Regions from separate parts of the Homo sapiens genome. Here region 2 is linked to region 1. A link means that fine-mapping ties the variant in region 1 to the expression of a gene that starts in the linked region. Tissue or cell type: whole blood. Region 1 holds a variant in brackets; the other region holds the start of a gene. All regions are shown on one strand. Distances are between the middles of the regions.

Region 1 (8,100 bases):
GGTTCACACCTGTAATCCCAGCACTTTGGGAGGTCGAGGCGGGCAGATCACCTGAGGTCAGGAGTTCGAGACCAGCCTAGCCAACATGGTGAAACCCCGTCTCTACTAAAAATACAAAAATTAGCCAGGCATGGTGGCAGGTGCCCGTAATCCCAGCTACTTGGGAGGCTGAGGCAAGAGAATCTCTTGAACCCAGGAGGCAGAGGTTGCAGTGAGCCGAGATCGCGCCATCGCATTCCAGCCTGGGGGACGAGAGCAAGACTTCATCTCAAAAAAAAAAAATTAAAAGAATAAAACAGAAATATTTTCAGATGAAGGGAGGATAGGAAGATACCAGAAAGGGAAGGGGTGGAAAAGCTCTGTCTCTGCCTTGGGCCTGCCCATAACAGAGACAAACCCAGGCAGTGCAGAGCCCAGACCCCAAAATACCCCTAGTGTTGAAGGTGTGACCTGGCCTGGGGGAGAGGCTGGATATCGGCAGGGGCAGAGACGGGAACCTGAGGGAGAAGGACCTGACCTTGACCTCAGCCTCAGACCATGGGTCCCTGCTGCCTGCCTGCCTCCTACTGGGGGCCTACGAGGCCCACCTGGCCCCAAATGCTTGGCAGGCTCCCTGCCCGCTGGCTGCTTAGGGAGGTGCTCCCACTTCCCCCGCCGTTGCCTGAGCTCTCTAGGGCTCCTTCACTCTGCAGGTAGGCTGGGGTCCCCCTCTGTGCTGGGCACTGTGGTAGCTCAGCCGTGTGAGGCGGGGCCCTGGAAGAGCCCATGAGATGGCCAGAGCTGGGCTTGTCTGGCTGGAAGCTGGGAATAGGCTTCTCCAAGCTGCCAAATTTAAGTATTGAGTACATAAAAGGAGGAGATTGGCATTAGTGAGAACATGGCCCTGAGGCTTGATGGACCCAAAGCCTCCCAGGGTATGTGCGTTTTGAGGGGGTGGGGGGTGCACATGGGTGTCCGGGACCTCGTCTAGGTAATGTCTGCAGCCACATAGGATGATCTGACTGAATCTGTGTGAGGACAACCGTTTGTGTGCCTGTGTGTGCGCGCCCACGTGCATGCGCGTGTGTGGTCCTAGTGTAGGTGATGTCTGCGGCCACACAGGATGCTGACTGCGTGTGTGACTCGTGGGCGTGCAGATGCAAGCACAGGCCTACGACACATCTGTGTACAGGCTGAAGATCACAACGGGTCTGGCCAGGGCCCGCCGAGGGCCTCCGAGCTGGCGAGCACACCGACGGCTGGATGGGGCGACGCTTCCTGCTCCGGTCCCTAACTCATTATTAAGCTCCTCGCTCTTTGCAGACGCTCCCTGCGCCTCCCCCGCTCCGGGCTGCAGCGGCGCAGGCGCCGGGCCGAGCCGAGCGCCGAGCAGGGAGCGGGCGGCCGCGCTCCGGGCCGGGGTCCCGGGGGAGCAGGTGAGCGACCCGCGCCGCGCGGCCCCCACGGCCCTTGGCGAAGGCGCCTCCCGGCCGCGCTGCGCCGGCGCCCCCGCCTTCCCTGCCTGGCAGTCTCTGCTCGCCTCTGTTGGCATCCTCCTCCTCCTCCTCCCCCCTGCCTGGCATCCCCCTCCTCCCCCTGCCTGGCATCCCTTCTCCTCCCTGCCTGGCATCCCTTCTCCCCCTGCCTGGCTTCCCCCTCCTCCCCCTGCCTGGCTTCCCTTCTCCCACTGCCAGGCATCCCCCCTCCTTCTCCTGCCTGGCACCTTCTCCTCACCTGGCACTTCCCCTCCTCCCTACCTGGCATCCCCTTCTCCCTTCCTGGCATCTTCCTCCCCTCCTCCTTTCCAGGTATCTCCCCCCACTCCTGACTCTTTCCGTCCCCCCGCCTGGCACCTCCCTCCACCCCCACCCCAACCTCGTACCTCTTCCTCCTACCCCTTCCTTGCACCTCTTCCCTGACTGGCAGACTCCCATTCAGCCCCTCTGTGACACCACCTCCTCCCCATCGCTGCCTGGCATCTTCCCCTCCTTCCCTCTCCAGTACCTTCCTATCCTCCCTCCACCTGCATCTCCCCTCCTTCCCTCGTCTGGCACCCTCCTGCCTGGCACCTTCCCCTCCTCCCCCTGTCTGGCACCACCTCCTCCCATTGCCTGTCACCTCCCCCCTGCCGAGCACTTTCTCAACCTGCTCCTGCCTGGCATGCTCTGCTTCCTACTCCCCCTGTCTGGCACCTTCCCTCCTTCCCCTGCCTGGCATCCTCTCCCTCCTTCCCCTACCTAGCACCTTCCCATCATTCCCCTGCCTGGCACCTTCTCTGTCTCCACTTGGCCACCGTCTTCCCTGGATACCCCTCTCCTATTCAGGTTGTCCCTCTGTCCCCCACCTTCTTGCAGGGCACCTCCCCCCCGACCCTGGACTGGTAGCCCCTCCCCTACCGCATCTTCCTCTCCTCATCCTCCCCTCCCACTCTGTCTCCCGGACCCCACCAGCTCTCCCATCCCCAGCACTCCCTGTCTCCAGCCTCCTCCTTCCTCATCCCCTTTCCTCCCAACCCTGCTCAGGATTGATCCATGGGCAGCAGCCTCTTTTGCTCACATGGCTTAACCAGACCCTGAGCCACTCCCAAGCCCCACCTCTGTCACCCACACCCCGCTCCTACAGCACTGCTCTCTTCTTAGCTCCCATGCCCCACCGTCTGCTCAGGGACTTCATTTCATAAGTTGGGTCCTGACCCAACGAGCTGGAGGCCTTCCTGCTCTTCCAGCAAGGAAGGAAGCAGGGCAGGACAGGACAGAGCAGGCACTAGCAGGGACCAGGAGGGAGGCGCCTAGGCCAGCTGGTAGTCATGGAGCAGGCTGACTACCTGCCTGCCACCTCTGGAGTCCCTCCATGCCCCTGGGCTCCAGGGCCATCCCAGTTACCATCCTGACCTGCCCTCTGGCCTTTGCCTCCAATGCCCAGCTCTCTCCCTCCAACCATTGCCACACCCCCAAAACTGGCCTCTCCAGTCAGGGCTTGGGCTCTGCCTGGGGTCCCTGCTCTGTCTTTCAAGTTCTTTGTCCCGCAGGACCCTGGGGCCGGTCTCTGTCTGCTTCCCACACATACTGCTCCCACCTGCGCCCTGCCTTGTGCCACCCCAGCCCCAGCTGGCCCATGCTGGTTGCCTCCATCCTAGGCCCTTTTTTCTGCACAGTGTCCTGGCTTCCTCAGACCTCCACTCCGGGGAGTTTGGCTTCTTCGCAGCTTCCCGAGGCCTCCTTGAATCTACGCTGGGGCTCAGGGTCTGACCTCTCCTTTCAGATCCTCAGAATGGCCCTTGGTGCTGCAGGCGCGGTGGGCTCCGGGCCCAGGCACCGAGGGGGCACTGGATGACTCTCCAGGTGCAGGACCCTGCCATCTATGACTCCAGGTCTTCAGCACCCACCCACCGTGGTACAGGTAGGTGCTTCCTCCCCTGCCAGCCCAGGAGCAGAAGCTCTGGGGCCCCATGGCGAGTCGGCCAGCCCTCGGCTCCTGCTCCCACCACATGGCCCCCTCCCGGCATTTCTGCCCCCAGCTGGACTCCTTAGTGCCCATGGCAGGGCCTCTCTGTCCCTCTCCCCACCCCTGCTGACACCTGTCATTAATGTCCTTCCCTCCATCCCACACTCCCTTTCCTGCGTGTCCTCTCACCTCCTGGTGTCCTTAGGTCCTGCCTCTCAAAGCCTTTCTGAGCCAGGGACAAGCTACCTGAAACCAAGTTTTGGGTTCATGTGAGCATGGTCTGGGCTCTGGCATGCTCTACTTCCTCCCCACCTAGACAGCCAGACAACACCCCATCTCCTCTCACTGCGTACATGAAGAAGCGTGCACATACGTGCACATGCTCACATGCACACACACCACATGCTCTCTGCGAGCTGGAAGGAACCTGCTGATTCCTTGGCACAACTTGTGCTCAGAAACCTCTAAAAACCCTCAGGGCCCCAGGCAGGGTTCCGCTTGTGGCAGGAGGGAGGTGGCAGCCGTCTACTGCACAGCCCGCAGTGGGAGCCAACCCTGCCCTGCCCCAGGCGGACCTCTAGCTCTGATGCACTCTGGGCCATTGCTTGCTTGTAGGGCCTTCCTAAGCCTCCTCCTCAAGGAGTGAGAGGAAGATGGTCTGCATTTGTCCGCATCAGTCCCCACTTGTCCAGAAGGACACACTGAGGCTCTGGGCAGAAAAGCCACCTGCCCCAGAGCCCCAGCTGGCATGGTAAGGGGTCGGAACTGAAGTCTGGTCTGAGCTCTGCCTGCCCAGCCCCACCCATCATCACGCTGGCTGGCCTCACCGGTGGGAGGCACCTGGCAACAGGGTGGGTACTGGCAGGGCCTCAAGGTATGTGGAGCCCAGTCCCTGTCCTCAGGGCCTGCGGCCTTGGAGAGCAGCCTTGACAATTGGGCACAAAGGGCCACAGACCACACAGGCCTCAGAGCACTGAGGAGGGAGACATCAGGAAAGTCCTGGAAAGGTGCAATTGGAAATGGCCCAGAGGAGCCTGAGGCTCGGGGAGGCCTGGGGCTGTGGGCAGAATGAAAGTGCTTTCTCTGCTTCTCCTTCCTCAGAAGTGGGCAGAGGAA[C/T]TCATCCTCCTGCCAGGCTGCTCTGAAGGCCAGGGACAGCCCCGTTCCCCTTCAAACTGCCCCAGTGCCCCTCCTCCTCCAGTGAGGTGCAGGCCCAGGGCAAAATGGGGCAGGGCACCGGCTTTTGGGGAAGCTGGCCTGGCCCAGAGGATCCAAGCCACACAGGGCAGCAGCAGGCACCAGTCACCTGGTACCCATCACCAAGGAAACACACCTGGTGGCGGCATGCCCAGCCCCACACCTGAAGCCCCAGTCCACCTGCAGGAAAGTCAAGGCCTCCAAGCAAACGTCCCACCCTTATCCCCAACACCTCCCCAGCACCTGAGGTGAACTGGGGACTGGTTGCTCAGTTTGTGGTGGTTGGTGTTTTAGCTGAAATTCATAAAGAAAAGGTGAGAACTAGTATATTAAACCAAGCACTCTACAGTTCTGGGGTGTCTGAGGTTAGAGGCCAGGTTGAACGGGGGGCAGGCTGATGGGAGGCAGCTAAGCTTCCTGGAGGGGTGCACCTGAAGTGGTCCCCCACGTGGAGAGTCCTCCTAATATTTGACATGCCCTTCGTTAGGCCCTAAGGGGCTCCCCAGCAGCAGTCGGAGGGAGCCTTGGGCTGTTCCAGACCTTTCCTGAAGGGTCACTGCAGGATGGGCACAGGGGAAGGAGGGCAGAGGAGGCCTGTGAAGATTGGAGCTGGAGCCCTGGGGCAGTAGGTCCATCCTAGTGACACCTGGCCCCAGAGTGACCCTGGCCATGAGTCAGAAGCCCCAGCTCCAAGAGTGACAAGGTGGTGGAAGTTTGGCATCTTATCTTGGAGTTGCATTCACATGCAATCGGCGGTGTGCGTTGCAGGCTCTTGGCAGCCAGGCAGGCACTTGGGCATTTGGATGCTGACAGGCCCTGGTGCTGGTGCCTAGGCGTCCGTCCTCACCCCAAAACTGGCGGTGTGACTGCAAGTGAGTGCTCATGATTAGTGAAAATTAAGTGGTGGAGATAATGAGCTAGAGGTGTCACTGGGAGGAGGCTGAGCCACCCATCGGGGATGAGTGGACTTCCCTCAGCTGTGGCTGGACTCCTAACCATCTGGAATTGCTGTACCAGAGGGGCCAAGCTGAGGCCACCGCCTGCCTCTGACGGGTACTTGGCTGAGGGACATCTTGTAGGGACCATTGCTGTGTCCCCCTGTGCTCCTTGCTAATGAGGGGTGTGGGAATCCTTGGTGACTCATAAAGGACCGTAGAGGAGGGCTGATCACTTCAGCCAGGCCCACATTTTGGGATAGCGCGTTCGGTTTCTTGACTTTCCAAGCTGTGACACCGATTCTTGGCACTCTACACTTACTTCCAGGGATTTGAGAACGTGCCTCATGAGCGTGCGCCCCACACAGGCCTCCTACTGCAACTTACAAACTTGGACCATCTCCCATGTGAACCTTTTTCCCAGACTGAAGATCGTTCTGGGAAAATGCCCTAGAGTGAGGGACACTGTGCCATAAGGGAGGGAGAGGAAGACACAGGGAGGTGTTCTTATGCTCCGCCTCATCCTGAAAAGGGTTTCAGGTAGTTTGCAAAGATACATATAGTGAGGAAACTGAGACAGAGATAGAGTAGAGAAAACATGGTGTTGCCTAGGATGTGGCTACTGCACCAAATGCAAACCACGAGGCCCAGAGACCCCGATGCCAGCAGAGAAGCAAGCAGTTACATGATTTACACTGTGCATGAGATAAAAATCAAACAACTTGCTCAAATCACGTGATTTCTGGTCCCGAGCCACTGGGAGGTCTCTCCTGTATGAGGAAATGAAGGGGATACCATGTGACAAAGTTATGCAATGTTCTCAACAATGTCACAACTGCTTCCTAGGGCTAAGGCAAGGACCAACACAATACTCCCCAGCCATAAACCTACTGGTAATATTGCTTAACCCAAACTTAAAATTTGGAGCAACTAGAGGAATGCATTGCTACCTTCAGGAAATACCCTCTTTCTCTTTTGTAAGAGACAGAGTCTCACGCTGTTGCTCAGGCTGGAGTGCAGTGGTGTGATCATGGCTCACTGCAGCCTCCAACTCCTGGGCTCAGGCGATCCTGCTTTAGCCTCCTGAGTAACTGGGACTACAAGCGTAAGCCACAATGCCCCCTAGCTTTTGTTTGTTTTGTTTTTATTTTAGTAGAGATGAGGTCTCACTATATTTCCTAGGCTGGTCTCAAATTCCTGGGCTCAAGCAATCCTCCCACTTCAGCCTCCCAAAGTGTTGGGAGGCATGAGCCATCGAGCCTGGCCAGGAAATACTCTCTATATTGATATTTACAACAATGTTTCTGATAAATATCAGGCAGCAGGAAGGTTTATTTAAAATTGGAAATTAAGTACAGAGTCACATTCTCCAGGTAGGGGTAATATCCTTATAGGAAATAAAGAGCTCCTTAAGCACACAGGCCCCACAGGTGAGTTTGGGTATGAGGAGGGACCAGTCCTGGTCTTTCCCCACAGGTCCTGAACCCATGGAAAAACAGGCACAGGCATCAGTTAACTTAAGTGCAAGGAAATTCAAGCTGAAGAGAGGCTTGAACCTGAGGCCCAAGTGTAGAAGGCAGGTCCTACTCCCTAACCTGGGTTTGCTTACCTGGGCATGGGAACAGAAGGAGATGATCTGTGTCCTAAAACAGACTCGTCTAGAAGAGGAATGCTGGCCACAGGGTAAGCAGCCTTGCCTTCAGCACCTTCACCCCACCCGCCTGGGAAAGGGATTGTGCGGCTGGTGCAGGCCCTCACCACCTCATCAGACAAAGCCTCCTCCCACAGGGAGGAAGGGTGGGGAGAGGGCCAGGGTCATTCCAGTATCTCCTCTCCTGGGAATACAGTACATGTTTCCTTGTGAACACATGAAGACAAGGGAGTAGGGCCCCTCTGCAGTGGGGTGGATGGGCCACATTGCTAAACAGTGATATTGAGGCTCAGGTCCAGACCTGAAGTGACCAAGTCCACCCCCTTTCTTACCTCTCCATTGGAACAACTGCCACATCCTTTTATTTGATTTTATTTCCTAGATAAGTGTCAATTCCATCTGCTTCTGATTTCCCACGTCACTGCCCTGGTCCACACACTGTGATCTTCTGCCCCCATCTGAGTGCCGCATACTCAGCCTTGTCCCTGCATCAGACCCCGGCCCAGCACAGTAACGAGAATGGGCTTCCTAAACACAAATCTGATTTGTTCCGCCTTCCACTTCCTAGTGGCTTCATTCTCGTGCCCTCACTCAGGGCCCTCACACATGCTGTTCCCTGCACCTCCGACACCCTTCCCAGCTCCCTTCACCTGGCTAACTGCACTCATCCTTGAAGCCTCCACGTCAGTTCCACCTCTTCCAGGGAGGCTTTCTCCCACCCGGCTTGGGCGTGAAGGCCCACCCACTCTCTTCTGTCTTGCAGCACCTACCAAAGAGGCTAATACTGAGTTGCAGGGCTCCTTAAAGGCATGGCTGCATCTGTCTTGTTCCACACAGTACAGAGAAGTATTTCTTGAATGAATGAGCAAATGTGTGAGGCAGTGGACAGAGAGGGGG
Region 2 (8,100 bases), 26 kb after region 1:
GGAGGAGGAGGAGGAAGGTGCCTGATGCCCCTGGCCTGGCTTCGGAGCGTCCCCTCTGCTGACCGTCACCAGAGGCGGGGGTTGAGGTAGTCTCCCCTCCTCCCTCTCTGGAGCTGGGCGTGACCCCAAGGACTAGCCAGAGGTCCCCCGAGGCTGGTGCTTAGCCCGGGCAGGTAGGCTGGATGGCGGAAAGTGGGGCCTGGTTTAGAGATGGCCAGAACACCGAAACCAAGGCTTTGTGGTCCTCACAGCGCCAAGTGGTCTCACTTTCTCCCTCTCTCTTTCTTTCTCTCTCTCCCTCTCCTCTCGCGTTCTCTCGCTCTCTCTCTCTCTCACACACACACACACACACACTCACTCAGGCCGCCCCAGTGAGGGTGATCGTATTCTCCTAAGGAGAGCTTTATTGCTGGGGGTGTAGGGAAAAGGGAATAGAGGAAAGAGCTCTCTCCCAAGCAATCCGTTCTCCCTCCAGTCTCGCTTCCTTTGTTCCTCCCTTCCCTTCCTCCCTATCCCCTCGCCAGCTTCTCTTCTCTCCTTCCAGCCCCTTCTTCCATGTTCCCCGCTCTCCTGCTCCTCCTGCCGCGCCCCCCGAGCGGAGTCCCCGTGGTGGGACCTTCACGGAGGGCAGGAGGGCGGGACTGCGGCTGGGGCCCGGCCTAGGTGGCCATCTTCCCGCAGGGAAGGAGTTAAGTCTCTTCCCCGCATCCCTCCTCCCTCCGCCGCCTCCCCGGCCGCCGCGGAGTCCTGCAGCTGGGCCCCGGGCTGACCTTCACCGGGAGGGAGGCCGCGGCGCGCATGCCCAGGCCGGGGACCGGCGCGGGCGGAGGGAGGGGCGGCGCGGGCCGGGCCGGCCCGAGCCCCCCCAGCTCCCCGGCCGCCGCCCGCTCGCTCGGGCGCGGTGGGGGCGAGGCGGCCGAGCCCGTCCCGCAGGCCGCGGCGCATCTCTCCCTGCGCGGGGAGCGGCGCTTTGCCATTTGGTGCTGGTGGTGCTTCAGCGAGGGAAGGAGCGATGGGGGGACGGCAGGGGGGACTGCGGCGCCGGGCGCCGGGCGGCCGCCCTCGCCCCCGACAGGCGCACGGCCTGCCCCAAGTGCGGCGGGCGCCCTATTGCGCTGGGAGGAATCCACGCTCTTCCCGGGCCTCCTTCCCACCCGCAGGAGCCATCGGCGGCGTGGCACACCGAGCGCCCTTCTGGGGTTAAGCCACTGGGGATCCTGGCCTTTGTGAGGAGGGAGCCCTGGCCCGGGCCCCCACACTGGCGCCGCCCCAGCTTTCTGGTCTGAAGGCTCCTCCTGTCGCCCACCTAAAAGCAGTACGCAAATGTGTCTGGGCCTGCCTTGTGAATGGGGCCCACCACGGGATGTGGAGGTGCTCAAGGTGTGCCTGTGTGTGCAGAGCCATGTGGCTTCCTCGACCTTTTGGTGCTTGTATTGGTGTGCCTGCTGTGTGTGTGTTGGGAGGGTGTGTGTGCAAGGTGTATCTATTGTCTGTGTACACTTAAGGATGTCTCCCAGAGGGGTGGCTCAGGAGAGCGCTTATGTATGGACTTGGGTGAAGCTCACCAGCTCCTCCACAGGGGCTTCACCATAGCCCCTCGTCTAACTACCTCCCGCAACCTCTTCCACCACCAAGACCAAGCCCGGGATCTCCCAGGCCCTGCCTCAAACTTCCCAGCTACCCAAACTGGAGTGCCCAGCATCTCCTCTGCTGTCTTCTTTTCCCAAAAGGTCTCTCCAATAGTTGAGAACACTGAGCTTTAACAAAGCCTAGGGGTGTCTATCTCCAACCCCCAGAACCTCCAAGGCCTGTGGTTTCCCATGCCCCTGCTAGACGCACCCATGGTGGGTGGGGGTGCCCATGGTAACTCACACCATCAGGTAAATGGCAGAGTACCAGCTCCATGCATTGGCTCATTAAGCTTTGCAAGCATCAGGTATCTGGGGTACTGTTGAGTTCCTGTGCCCAGGCATGGAGGAAGAGTGGGAGTTAAAGATCAGTCTCTGACCTTATGGGGACCTTAGCCTCTCTGGGAAAGCAAAGCTAATGTCCTTGAAGCACAGTGCACGTCAGGCCAGTCCAATGCCAATTCATGGTGCTGGGTAGATGGCAATGAGCATTTGGAGAAGAGAAAAATCTTTGCATACAAGTAGGACGAAGGAAGGCTTCCTGGAGGAAGTGGGGCCTGGGCTGGGCTTTAAAGAATAGGTGTGATTTGGACAAGCAGAGGGAAGGCAGAGGGCAGGCAAAGGGCATTCCAGGTAAAAGAATCGGGGGCAGGGGCTAAGAAATGGGAGTGAGCGGGGATTCTGGAGGTTAGCAGGCAGACTGGGCAAGTCACTTCCCCAGGTTCCCAGCAGCATGACCTATGGCAGACAGAGGCAGGCCACCCACCCATCCCCACCGTGTCAGGGCCCAGGCTCTGTGTGTGGGGGTGTGTGGGGGGTAGTCTAGGCTAAAGCCCTGGGAGAGATTTGGTAGCAAGGGGATCTCTAGGTCCCCTTTCAAGCTAGGGGTGGTGGAGGAGCAACCTGGACCAGATGTCCTCCCTGACATTTCAGATTGACAGTGGGCACCTAAATGAACAGTGACAGCCAAGAGCACAACCAGGGCCAGCAGAAATCAGGCTGCAGGCAGAAAGGACCCCCTGGGCAAAGGCATTCTGAAGGGTTTAGGGTCAGTACCCTTCAGTCTTCAGGGCCCAACTTCAAGTAAGTGTTTCAACAAACTCCCCTAGGCACTAGGCTATGGTCCTGCCCTCACCTGGATTCTCACAGTGAGGCCCCAGCAGACCCCCAAACTTGACCCAAGGGCCTTGTTCCAAAGCCCACGGCTCCTCCCCAAGAAGGAGAAAAAAGGGGCGTGGCCTTTGGGGACCTGGGTAGGCCCAGGACTCCCTGCCTGGGTATGTCAGGATTTGCCCCTCCTCCTTCCGGTCCCTCCTCCACTCCAGGGACTGCCAACTCCTTCCACACGCCCCTTCTGGGGCTCCCTTGCCACCCCACGCCACACCCCAGCCTCAAGACCCCTCTCTTTGGGGTCTTGAGGCCGGCCCAATATACCCACTATACCCAGCCCAGCTGCCCCAACTCCTCTGGGTCCCCTAACCCCACTCCACCCCCACCCCAAGGAAACCAAGCCCAGCTTGCCTCGTTCTCTCCACGCACCCACCCGAGCACCCCCCTGGCGCTGCGCCATTCCCCACATTCATTCTCTTCCTGTTCTCATGAGCACAATCCCTGTCCCTCTTTCTGAAATACTTCCCCTATTGCCCTCACTTTCTCACAGAGCGGCAAACAAAGACTCACATACCCAGAAATAGCCTCTCACAGAGCTGAAAGGCACAGGCCATGTCCTGCCACACACGCAGGCGCGCGCGCACGGAGGCTGTCGTGGAGGGAGGCACACATACAGGGCGTCTGTCTGCACGCACATAAGCTGCCACGCCACAAAAGGGCGCGGACACACACGGCGTGTGAGACAAGGGCACACACAGCAGTGGACGCAGGGCCACGCCGCCGCCCGGGCACACCCACCGCCGCCGGCCCCGGGCAGGCGCGAGGCCTCGCGGGCCGGGCTCCCCCGGTTCCTGCCAGCGAATGTTTCCCTGCTCGGCCTGCCAGGTCTCTGGGGAAAGGGCCTCAGAAATGCAGCAGGAGCCGCTGGGGGAAAAGTTGGAACTGACTGTTCCCTGCCTGGCGCGGCCGGCGAATTCCCTGACGGAGAAACTATTTGTGGCGAGAGCCGGTGGCCGGCGACCCCCCGCCGCCTCCCCTGGCGTCCCCTCCCCGCGCCGCCTCCCGCGGGCCTCGGCGGCTTCGGGCTGCAGCACTGCTGCCCAGCGCCCGCGGCCGGGCTGGTCGGCGCGCCTCGCCGCTTATCTGCGCTGTTTGGACAGCGGGCTTGGAAAGGCAGGCGGCCCCGTCCCCGCCGAGTCAACAGGCAGACCCCGGGCCGCCGGACTATTTCTGTCTTATCAGTGCAGGAATGCGGCAGCCGCGGCGGCGGCGGCGGCGGCGGGCGGGCGGCGGCGGCGTGGGCCGTGGGCCGTCAGGGCAGCCCTGAAGGGGCCCCCTCCCCACTCCGCTCGAGTAGAAGTGTGAGAGAGCCCAGCAGGACTCAGAGGGGAGAGTTGGAGGAAAAAAAAAGGCAGAAAAGGGAAAGAAAGAGGAAGAGAGAGAGAGAGTGAGAGGAGCCGCTGAGCCCACCCCGATGGCCGCGGACGAAGTTGCCGGAGGGGCGCGCAAAGCCACGAAAAGCAAACTTTTTGAGTTTCTGGTCCATGGGGTGGTGAGTGGGGGAAAGTTAGCGGGGGAGGGCAAGCGAGCTGGCTCGGGCTGAATGGAGGGCTGATCGGGAGGGGCCGGGAGGGCGCTCCCGCTCTCCCACCCCTCTAGTGGGGGGCGTCATGGCCCACGGCCCGGCCGCGGGACTGTGCTGGCGCCCTGGCACCCGAACACGTCGCCAGGCGGCCGGCCGGGTCTGACGCGAGGCGGGGAAGGGAGGCGTTTGCATGGCTCTTGTCAGGGGCGGGGGTGGGACTTGGGGACTCTACCCCCCAAGTAGGGGGTCCTCGCTGTAGCCGACAGGTTGACTTTCGTTCTTTTCCTTGTGGGCCCAGGTGTTGCCCCTGCCCTGGGGGTGGGGGTGGGGGATGGGGACATGGCAGAGGCTGGGCTGGGCTGTCTGTTCATCCGTTGGGACAGTGTCACTGCTTGTGTCTCCGGAGCAAGGAGCAGGTGACCCTGGAGGCACTGTAGCGGGAAGCTCGCAGGCTGAGCCACCTCTGCATCCCAGCGGGAGGGCTCTGGAGCTTCTGCCTTAGGGTGGGGGAGAGGACCGCTCTAGGGACTTAGCCCAAGTTAGGGGCTCTGAGGGTCTCCTTGGCGGACTCAGCCACCAGAAGCTGATGTCCTTAACTCCTCGAACATGTGAAGGAAGGGGCTGGAGTTGGGGACATGAGGCCTAGAGACCGAAGGGACAGGGGAGCACTGTCCTGCCACAGGCAGGCTGTGAAGGCACGTGGGAGCCCGGGAGGCTGGAGCTGAGTCAGTAGGGCCCGGCTGGGAGGGGTATGGAGGGGTGGGGAATGGGAGAAGCAGGGGCTGCGACTCTTGGGATGGGTGAGGGAGTGGAGGCCCTGTGTAGAGGAAGCTGTCGGGTTTACTATGGCCAAATTTGGTTGTGACCCCAAGGAAGACACCCTCTCAGTAAGGCCAGAGTCCCTAGGATTTTGGCCTTTCATGGGGATGGGGCTGGTGGCGGGCACAGCTCTCTGGGGGCTCTGAAAGCCTCCCTCTCAGGGCCTCTTCAGCAGATGGGCCAGTATCCCTGGCCTTGATAACTGGGGAGAGCAGCTGACAGGAAGAGGGGGACTCCCTGGAGTGGCCTGTCCTCCAGCCCCAGGGACCCCTGGGGGTAACTTCCCAAGGTGTCCATGTCAGCTAGCTGAGTTACCAGTCCTAACCTGGCTGCTGGTGGGAGCCCCTTTAAAAAGGCCCATCTAGTGGGGAGAGGCTGTACACGTGGACTGTTTTTTTAATCTGGTCAACTTACAGCTTCAGTTCTTGAGTGGCTGTGAGCCCCAGTGCCCCACCTAGCTGGTGGCCAGGCCTGGGCTCCATTCTGGGCTGCTACCCTGGAGGCCTGAGTGACAGGGTCAGGTGGGGTGAGGGAAGCAGACACATGGACAGGCAGGTTTCACTGCAGGAGAGATAGGCAGAGACAGCTGCTGACCGAGGGTGGGAGGACATTAGGGTTAGACACAGAGCCTGGAGGACCAGGAGGGAGAGGTAGCAGTTGGAAGGAAAACAGCAAGCCCAAGGGGGCCCCTCCTCATGCCTGGGGGTGAGGTGGGTGGTGTGTCCATGTTAACAGTGCCAGGGTCTGCATCCCCTGCCCTCTGATCTTCTTCCTGCTTTCGTGGTCCCAGTCCCCATCCCACCCCGCTCTTTCTGTTTCACAGCCCCTGAAACTCTCTCTGGCCCTCCCCATCTCCCTTCTGGAGTCTGGACAAGTGGGGTTTGGAACACTTCGCTCGATGCATTTGCATCTCATTTACACCCCATCTGACCACCCAGGGGTAGTGGCAAGGGAGGAGGAGCCGCCTCCTCTCAGTCTCCACAGCCCCCATGAACCCTGACTGCTGACCTCACTGGGGTGGGGATGGGAAGAGGAGGAGGTGGCTGCTGACCTGGGCAGACAGGAAGGGAAATGTGAGTGCAAGTGTCACTGCCCTGACCCACCCCAGGCCCCCCTGGGCAGCCCACCTCTAACGCAGTTCCCCTCCTCCCAATCAGAGAATCCTGGCTGTGTCTGGGGCGCCCCAGCAGGCTGCCCTTGCCTGCCCTGCCTCCAGCCCTCACCCTGGGAGCAAATTATGGGGGCAGCTTGGTCAGCGAAGACCCTGGATGTGGGGACTTGGAGTCAGCCGAGGGGAGTGGGGTTTGGGACCCAAGGGTCAAAAGCAGGGACACAGGGAGCAGAGTGGCTGAGATGAGCTAGTGAGTACCAGGCAGAACCGCCCAAGAAGTGGAGCCTGAGAAGGAGGAGCAGGAGGAGGAGCAGAAGTCGGAGCAGGGAGCCGGGTACCGGACCTCAACCAAGCCGCAGAGAGCAAAGCCCTGGGCCCCCAGGAGGCAGCCCTTCAGGGGCTGCCTGGGCCAGGATGAGCTGTGTGACCTTGGCGAGGTCATTTTTCTCCTTGAGCCACAGTGGCCCCATCCGTCAAGTGGGGATGAAAGGACCTGCTCAGGCTGTCTTGCAGAGGAGCATGTGGATGTGAACATCTTTGAAAGGTTGAAAGGCGCCATTAATATTCATTTTTGCGGTACCTTCCGCAGCCCCGAGGCTCGCAATGCCCTGTGCGGTGCCTGGCTTCAGTTAGCTTCCTGCAGCCAGACGCCAAGCCCCTCCGCCAGAGCCGCGCAGATTCCGGCGCCCCTGCCCCTCCTACCCATCGCTCCCACCCATCGCTCAACGCTCAGGGTCACCAGCCGAGGGTCTGGTGGGGGAGGGGAGACGCCGGCTCACCGCGCCTGGAGCGGGGGGCCCTGGTCTGACCCACGGGCGCCCGTTTCTGCTTCACCCCCGCCCACCCCCAGCGCCCCGGGATGCCGTCTGGAGCCCGGATGCCCCACCAGGGGGCGCCCATGGGCCCCCCGGGCTCCCCGTACATGGGCAGCCCCGCCGTGCGACCCGGCCTGGCCCCCGCGGGCATGGAGCCCGCCCGCAAGCGAGCAGCGCCCCCGCCCGGGCAGAGCCAGGCACAGAGCCAGGGCCAGCCGGTGCCCACCGCCCCCGCGCGGAGCCGCAGGTGAGTGGGAGGCCCGGCGAGGAGGGGGCGTGCAGGGGCGGGCCCTGGGGGACCCGCAGGGACCAGGTAAGCGAGTAGCGGGGATTGGAAGGGGCGAGGAAGAATGATTAGCAGGGAGCGAGGCTTCCCGGGTCGAATGCCCTCTGGGGAGGTAGGCTTAGGGGGCACCGGCCTGATTCTTTTGTGTGCCCACGGTAGAGACAGGCTGCGGCGTCGGCAGCCGGTACCGCTTCCCTGCACGCTCCCCTCACCCTTCTCCTTGTCACCTGCTCAGTCCTTCTCTCCACCCATCAGGTTCTGGGTGATGCTTCAGTCTTTGGGGTGGGGGCGGGGCTTCCAGTGGGACTGAGGGCAGAGGTGTAGGACTGTGTTCCCCAAAGTGTGGTTCTCCGCTGAGCCTTCCTGCCGGCCCCCGGGCTGTTTCAAAGCCACTCCAGATTTTCTCAATGGGACTCTCTGACCATGGGGGTGGAGCTTGGGGATTTGCCCTGTGGGTAGGTGGTCTCTACCCAGTCCTGCTCTTAATTCTTAGGCACTCTGGCCCAGGTCTGCTCTCAAGCCACCAGGGCCAGCCCATTTCCTTGCTTTCCTCCAGCAGCTGGTGGCACCCTCAAAGCCCCTGCTGGCTCCTGGCAACAGCAGTGCCCCTCCGGGTTTCAGTATTTAGCCAAATACACATGCTTTTTTTGCACAACAGATGGGTTTCTATAAAAGGTGTAATATCAATTTTACCTCATTATTATTTTTTACACATCGGGGAAAAAATCACCACTTATAGGAATCCC

Evidence for each region. PIP is the estimated chance that this variant, and not a neighbour inherited with it, causes the effect.
Region 2: SMARCD3 starts here. The variant in region 1 is fine-mapped to the expression of SMARCD3 in whole blood (TOPMed, PIP above 0.99).

Annotation. Positions count from the first base shown.
Region 1 is chr7:151,270,392-151,278,491 of GRCh38, reverse strand. It overlaps a transcript of SMARCD3 not described here. Among named protein-coding and RNA genes, the nearest start is that of SMARCD3, 26 kb to the right of the region's middle. RefSeq lists enhancers at 160-869, 3,023-3,822. The variant C/T (reference allele first, on the strand shown) is at 4,540.
Region 2 is chr7:151,244,675-151,252,774 of GRCh38, reverse strand. SMARCD3 (SWI/SNF related BAF chromatin remodeling complex subunit D3) reads left to right here and starts at 4,081. Exons shown (of 13, transcript NM_001003801.2): 1 at 4,081-4,290; 2 at 7,104-7,315. The coding sequence starts at 4,213. RefSeq lists enhancers at 1-560, 5,840-6,413, 6,414-6,988, 6,989-7,562, 7,563-8,100 and silencers at 3,421-3,510, 5,558-5,852, 6,927-7,006, 7,027-7,326.